Linked DNA regions of Homo sapiens. The protein of the gene in region 1 interacts with the protein of each later gene in a biochemical or structural test. Each region holds a gene or a part of one and is shown in the gene's direction. Other genes may lie near its edges.

What was found. Proteins that work in one complex are often made in the same cells at the same time.
Region 2: the proteins of CDK11B (region 1) and YWHAB form a complex in vitro, tested with the Homo sapiens proteins (one study listed by BioGRID).

The regions. Positions count from the first base shown.
Region 1 is NC_000001.11:1,642,005-1,645,653, reverse strand, and holds part of CDK11B (cyclin-dependent kinase 11B), read left to right. Parts: intron 1-364; coding exon of another isoform or gene 365-391; coding exon 392-528; intron 529-3,145; coding exon 3,146-3,268; coding exon of another isoform or gene 3,269-3,307; intron 3,308-3,649. UniProt on the Homo sapiens protein: Plays multiple roles in cell cycle progression, cytokinesis and apoptosis. Involved in pre-mRNA splicing in a kinase activity-dependent manner. Isoform 7 may act as a negative regulator of normal cell cycle progression.
Region 2 is NC_000020.11:44,892,168-44,895,816, forward strand, and holds part of YWHAB (14-3-3 protein beta/alpha), read left to right. Parts: intron 1-3,649. UniProt on the Homo sapiens protein: Adapter protein implicated in the regulation of a large spectrum of both general and specialized signaling pathways. Binds to a large number of partners, usually by recognition of a phosphoserine or phosphothreonine motif.

The DNA.
Region 1 (3,649 bases):
GTAAACCCAGCACTTTGAAAAGCGGAGGCAGGCGGATCACGAGGTCAGGAGATTGAGACCATCCTGGCTAACATGGTGAAACCCTCGTCTCTACTAAAAATACAAAAATTAGCTGGGAGTACAGGGCGCACGCCTGTAATCCCAGCTACTCGGGAGGCTGAGGCAGGAGAATCGCTCGAACCCGGGAGGCGGAGGTTGCAGTGAGCCGAGATCGCGCCACCGCACTCCAGCCTGGGGGACAGATGAAGACTCCGTCTCAAAGAAAATAAAATAAAAAAATGAAAAAAAAACTTCACGGATTGAATTACGTAGAAAGCCAGTTTACAAATGTGGACAAAAACGCGATAAGCAAGCTTCTGTTTAGGGGGAATGATGGCGTGTGCCTCTTCAGGGACCGCTTGGAGCAGTTAGAAAGGAAGCGGGAGCGGGAGCGCAAGATGCGGGAGCAGCAGAAGGAGCAGCGGGAGCAGAAGGAGCGCGAGCGGCGGGCAGAGGAGCGGCGCAAGGAGCGGGAGGCCCGCAGGGAAGGTAGGCGGCGCGGTGGGCAGCTGTGCTCGGCGGGACGCGTGTCTGCTGCCCCCTGGTGCTGGGCACTTGCTGTCACAGGCGGGCGCTTGGTTCCGGTGCTTGCTTTTCGCCCCTGCCTTTTTTTTTTTTTTGGAGGCAGAGTTTTGCTCTTGTCCCCCAGGCTGGAGTGCGGTGGCGCGATCTCGGCTCACTGCACCCTCTGCCTCCCGGGTTCAAGTGATCCTCCTGCCTCAGCCTCCGGAGTAGCAGGGATTACAGGCACCCGCCACCATGTTCAGCTATTTTTTTATATTTTTAGTAGAGACAGGGTTTCACCGTGTTAGCCAGAATAGTCTCTTGATCTCTTGGCCTCGTGATCCACCCACCTCGGCCTCCCAAAGTGCTGCGATTACAGGCGTGAGCCACCGCGGCCGGCCAGTACGAGCTTTTATAGTCACCCACGTCCTCACCTTAATGGAGATCTTTATTTCTTCACCCAGCTTCCGGTTTCTGTCTCGCGTCCTTTCCTTACACCCCACACAACTCCCTGGAGCTTATTCTTCAAGGCAGGTCTAGGTCTAGTAGTAATGAACTCCCTCTGCTTTTGTTTATCTGAGAATATCCTCATTTCTCCCTCATCTTTGAAGGAAAGTTTGCTGGATACGTGGTTCTTGGTTGACAATTTTGTTGTTGTTGTTTTGAGACAGAGTCTTCTTCTGTTGCCCAGGCTGGAGTGCAGTGGAGCGATCATAGCTCACTGCAACCTCGAACTCCTGGGCACAAGTGATCTTCCCACCTCAGCCTCCCGCGTAGCTGGGACCTACAGGCGTAGCGTGTGCCACCACACCTGGCTCATTTTTCAGTAGAAACAAGGTGTCCCTGTATTGCCCAGGCTGGTCTTGAATTCCTGGGCTCAAGGAACCCTCATGCCTAGCTGACAGTTTTTCCTTTTCACTTGGACTATTTCAGCCCATTGTCTTCTGGCCTCCAAAGTTTCTGATGAGAAATCTGATGATCTTATAGAGGATCCCTTGGATGCTTTAATCTGATGACCTGATTGAGGATCCCTTGGATGCTTTGAAGATTCTCTTTGCCTTAGGCTTTCAACTGTTTAATAATGGGTTTTCCTGTGGGCCTCTTGACTTCATTCTACCTGGAGTTCACTGAGCCTCTCTAATGTTTATATTTACGGTTTTCATCCAATGTGGGGGTTTTGAGGAATTCTTCAGATACCCTCTCTGCTCCTCTCCTCCCTCCTGGGCTCCCACAGATCTGTTGGGGTCCCCGAGGCCGCTCAGCACTGCTCCCTTTTCTTCAGTCTCTTCTGCTTTCTTTTCCTCAGACGATGTGATTTTATTGTCTTCAGGCTCACCGATTATTTCTTCTGCCTGCTCACATCTGCCTGTGAGTTTCTGTTGTGAATATTTACTTTTTAGTGTCTATTGTGAGCATGTACTTATTAGCTCTGGAATTTCTCTCTGGTTTCTTGTTGGATCTTCTGTCTCTGTTGATATTTCCGTCGTGTTCACGCGTCATTTTCTTGACTTTCTCCACATCTTCCTTTCGTTCTCTGAGGAACTGAAGGTTAAGACAGTTCCCTAAAGTCTTTGGGACATCTACCGTCAGGTGATTTTCAGGAACCGTGTCTGTTGGCTTCTTTTTTTCCCCTCTGAATGGGACATACTGTCCTATTTCTTTGTTTCTCTTGTGTTTTTCTTAGTCAAAAAAATGGACATTTGATTCTCATGATGTGATTCTTCCTGGTCCCCACTCAAGGGTGTGCACTTGTTGTTTTGGTTGTGCTGGGCTGTGTCTGTGGGGTCGGCCTGTTGTGGAAACTCAGGGTCTTCACGGGTCTTTTCTGAGCCTGAGCCTTTTCCTGGTCACGTGCAGCCACTTTTTAACGTTCCCGTCAATACAGATGTTTTTAATGTTCTTGTCCTGAAGTGTCTGCCTCCTAAAGGGGGAATAGAGAGAAATGAAGGGGGCAACGGGGGACGTGGTGCTCATGCCCTGGAAGTACCTTCAGCTTGGGGGTGGCCGTGGCTGCTGCCTCTTCATGCCTCTGGGGTGGGACACGCAGTCATCACACTGACCTCGGGTGTGTGTGTCCGTCTGCCCACCTGGGTCCGGCGAGCTGCATGCAGGCTGCTGCCTGCCAGCGGGGAGTGAGGTGGGAGCCACTAATGTGCGAAGCGGTGACGTTGATTAATGAATCACAGTTTACTCTCCAAGATTCCCCCTGAAGTTGCAAACCTTCAGTAGACTCCAGAGCACCTCAGTAGTTGCACAGGCCTGATCCTGTGATGCAAGTGTTGTCTCGGTGGGGAGACTGATTCCCAGTGCTTCCTACTCCATCTTTCCAGAATCTTCTCCCGCCCCTTCCTTTTTGACCAGTGAAGATCAGTCTAGAAGGTCCACCTGGGTCCTCGGGCTCACGGCCTCCAGGTTGGAGCTTTTTCTCCCTGGGCTTCCTGGGAGACCTCTGGCCTCTGACCCCGATGCTGTCAGCACCCTGTGCACGCTGTGGGTGTGTCTGCCAGGTGCGGGTGTGGGAGACGAGGCAGCTGTGCCGGGTGGGGCCTTTTGAGGAAGGCAGTGCTGCTAGTGCCATCTCCCTCTCTGCCCTGCGCGCCAGTGTCTGCACATCACCGAACGATGAGAGAGGACTACAGCGACAAAGTGAAAGCCAGCCACTGGAGTCGCAGCCCGCCTCGGCCGCCGCGGGAGCGGTTCGAGTTGGGAGACGGCCGGAAGCCAGGTGAGGCCAGGCCGGCGCCTGCGCAGAAGCCAGCACAGTGTGAGTCTTTTCTGGGGGATGTTTGGCATAAGTGTGTAGGATTCATTTAAAGCCCAGCTAAGTAACCGCTTCAGAAGAAAGTGAGAGATGTGCTGGCTGAAGTCCTCTCGTGTCGTGAGAGGGACCGTGAGTGTCTGTGTGCGGCCAGGACACAGGACGTGTGTTTATCCGCTGGGACATTCGCCACTGGCCCCGTTAGAGAAGTGGCTTCCAGCGTCTCTGGATGAGCTGGTTTCCGACCAAGCAAAGTTAATCGTTACGTGAAAGGCACTAGTTTTGGGGTGGTGGTAGCTTGTTTGTTTAAAAACATTTCCCCAAATTCACCTTTATGGTTTATCTCAT
Region 2 (3,649 bases), on another chromosome or scaffold:
ATGTGATCAGTTCCTTACCCCATTGAAACATTCGAGCCTAGATTTTTCAGATTTTCTTGTCAGTTTTCTTCCTTATTCTCATTTCTTTATCTGCTTTGGCCTTTGATTTTTATCTCATCTAGAAAAACATACATGCACTTTATTAATAACATCTCTTTTTAAGTCACGACCTAGCTACCTTTAAACCTATTTCCTCTAGTTCTGTCTGGTTGGCTTTCTAAGGAGAGGCATTGTAACCCTTAAACGTGTGCTGTTTTTTTTTTTAATTGATGTGTAATAGATATACATGTGCTCTTTTCTTGTGTTTCTACCACTAGAGTTTAAGCTCTCTGAGGGGAGGACTACACTGCTTTCTTTTAAATTCCTCTCAATGAATAATCCAAAGAGTTCTTAGAAATTTGGTAGTTTTTCATTTTGTTAGTTATTTCAACACACATTGGATTATATGTGTTACATTTTTGTGAGGTAGCTTAAGAATAAAAAATAAGAATGGCTTATGAGCCTTTACTCTAACCAGCACTATATGGGCATTTTATGTTCATTATCTTATTTGATAGCTATTAATGTCTCTTTTTAACACTGAGAAAACAGATTCAGGTAAGTTATAATGTGGAAATGTAGAAAAATCACCTACTTTCTCTTTAGAAGCTCAGATGTGTATGTAAGGCTTGCTAAAAGCAGACCCCACCGTATATTTTATATGTATAGAGCTTGGGTAATTCCTGACATATAATAATGGAGTCTTCATCTGAAATTTCTAACAAATTATTAAATTCAAAGCTTATTATTTTCGAATCGAGCATGTTCTTTGCCTTGAAAACAAAACATAGCTGAAAGCCAGTGCTTCTAAAGGCCACAGCTGTCATTTTCAACCCTTTCTGTCTTTGCACTGCCTTTATTTAAAAAAAAATGGATTAGCAGTAGGTAGTCTTCTTTTTCTTTTCTTTCTTTCTTTTTTGATTCTTCTCCTAGGATATCTGCTCTAGCCACTGGGAAATAACTTCTCAGTATTTTGACCCTGACTAGAAAGATGTCCCTTGGGGAAGGAATTGGGATAGAGGGGCTAGGCTGTTTCCTAGATCCTCTATTTTCAGCATTTATTATCTGATTTAGGATTTTGTTTCTTTGAAGAAAATCCTATTTTGTGAGTACCTTTAGAATTATTTTTCATAGCTGTTTATCTGCACTAGTGGTTTCTCTTTAAACAGAAAAACACTTTTTTTCTTAAAAAAAGAAATAGTACCCAATTTTTAAAAAAGTAATACATACTTGAAGAAAATTTAAAAAGATAGGAAAATGAGGATATAATAATGTTATTACCCAGAGACAGAACCAGTGTTAACCATTTGGTGTAACCTTTCTGTTCGGGTTTGTTTGTTCTTTAGGGGATATTTTACAGAAATAAAATATTGTGCAGCCTCGTCCCTCCAGCCCCCATTGCTCTTAAATAAATCTTTTCATGACATTAAATCTCTTCTTTTGATGGCCACGTAATCTTGTACCATCTATCTCCTTCCCTCCCCTGCCTTTTTTTTTTTTTTTTTTTTTGAGACGGAGTTTCGCTCTTGTCGCCCAGGCTGGAGTGTAGTGGCGCAGTTTCGGCTCACTGCAACCTCCACCTCCTGGGTTCAAGTGATTATCCTGCCTCAGCCTCCCGAGTAGCTGGGATTACAGTCATACACCACCCCGGCTAATTTTTTTGTATTTTTAGTAGAAACGGGGTTTCACCACATTGGCCACGCTGGTCTCGAACTCCTGACTTCAGGTGATCTGCCTGCCTTGGCCTCCCAAAGTGCTGGGATTACACACGTAAGCCAGTGCACCTGGCCAGTCTCCTTATTTTTTAAACCATTCCCATATTGTTGGATATTTAGATTTGCTTCCATTTTTTCACTAAGCAATCTCTGCGTTTATCAACAAATGCTTCCCAGTCCTGACTTGCTGCATCCAGTGGCTTAGAACAGATTGACAGCCATCATCATCATATAGGTGTGCTGGAGAGCTCCTGTTCTCAAGCACGTCAGTCTCTTCCTGAAATATGCCCAGCACAAGGAAAATCTCTTGGCTTACTGCAGGGTTGGGCCTTTTGTGGCCTCTAATGAGTTTGCCTGCGCCAGTATCTTGATGCTTCTGCAGTGGTGCCAGGCCTGACGATGAGACTATAGTCTTTCAAAAACTTTTTAGGAGACAAATAAAGAGTATCTTGCTGACTTTTTTTTTAGTGGGAACCTCATTCAAAGTCTTGGAACAACAGTAGGTCTTGATTAAAAACCATCATGGCATATCACTAGAAAATTCAATTAGAAACTAATGGATAAACTTCAGTTACATTTAACATATATGTCCATTTTAACATAACATACTAACTATCTGTACAAGATTAATCTAGACTTTTGCTTTTCCTTCTCACAAAATTGTATATTTAAAAAGAAAATTCAAGCTTATGGTTTTATGGGCTGCTACAGTGTAATAGTCGTGGAGAAGAATAATAGTACTTCAGTTTGATTTTGCACTATGCATTTTTCAAGGAAGATTTCCACATTTAGTATTCTTTAATTCCCTGCGCCTCATCTTCACAGCAACTCTACTGAGGTAGATGCCATCTTCATTTTATGGATTGGAAGGCTGAGATTTAACATGCTCACATGGCTGTATAGTGGCACATTGCGCTGTGACACACAGTCCTGCTGCCTTCCGACTATACTACATATAGGTACTCTGTGTTCCTTGTGCTCTCCCAATAATGATTTGTAGAAAAACTTGATATTCATTTGCATATGAGTTTTGTGCTTAGCACAGTTATAAGCATTAAATGTGAAACAAACATGAAGCTTTCCTTTGAGGGCACACACGTGAAGCTGTAAGTGGTACAGTACTCATCTGTATCACAGAATGGCATAAAGAAGTCCTAGACCATGTAATAGGCTATAAGTATATTCAGAGTCATAGGCAAGGTAAATCAGTGAGGGCTAGGGCAGTCAGGGAAGGGTTTGTAGCCCTAGAAGAATGGGTGGAGTTCAGATAGGCAGGCAGTAAATAGGAGAGCACTCTAGATGAAGGGAACTACAAAAGCAGTTTCAGACACGTTTGAGCATTGTGTTTATAGGGCATGTGGTGCTGGCCAGCCTGAGAGAAAGGTACATGTTGGAGAACAGTGGATGAGAAAGCCAAACAAGTAAAGAGGAGACAATTTATCAGGAATTTGAAAGCCAGGTAGAGCTTAAATTTGATGGAGTAGCCAAAAGGGAGTCATTGGAAGTTACTGAGTAAGGACAAAGGCAAGACTAGAGGTAATTTAGGAAGAGTAATTTTTTGTTTGTTTTGAGACAGGGTGTCTGTCACCCAGGCTGGAGTGCAGTGATGCAGTCATGGCTCAGTGCATCCCTGGCCTCCTAGCCTCAAGCGATTCTCCCATCTCAGCCTCCCAAGTAGCTGGGACCACAGGCATGAGCCACCACACCTGGCTAATATTTTATTTTTTGTAGAGACAAGGTCTTACTATGTTGCCCAGGCTGGTCTTGAACTCCTGGTCTCAAGCGATGCTCCAGCTTTGGCCTCCAAAAGCACTGGGATTATAGATTGATCTGCCATGCCTGACTGGAAGAGTGAATTACTCTTTGAATTTCAGAGGGCACAGAAATTCAAGAAA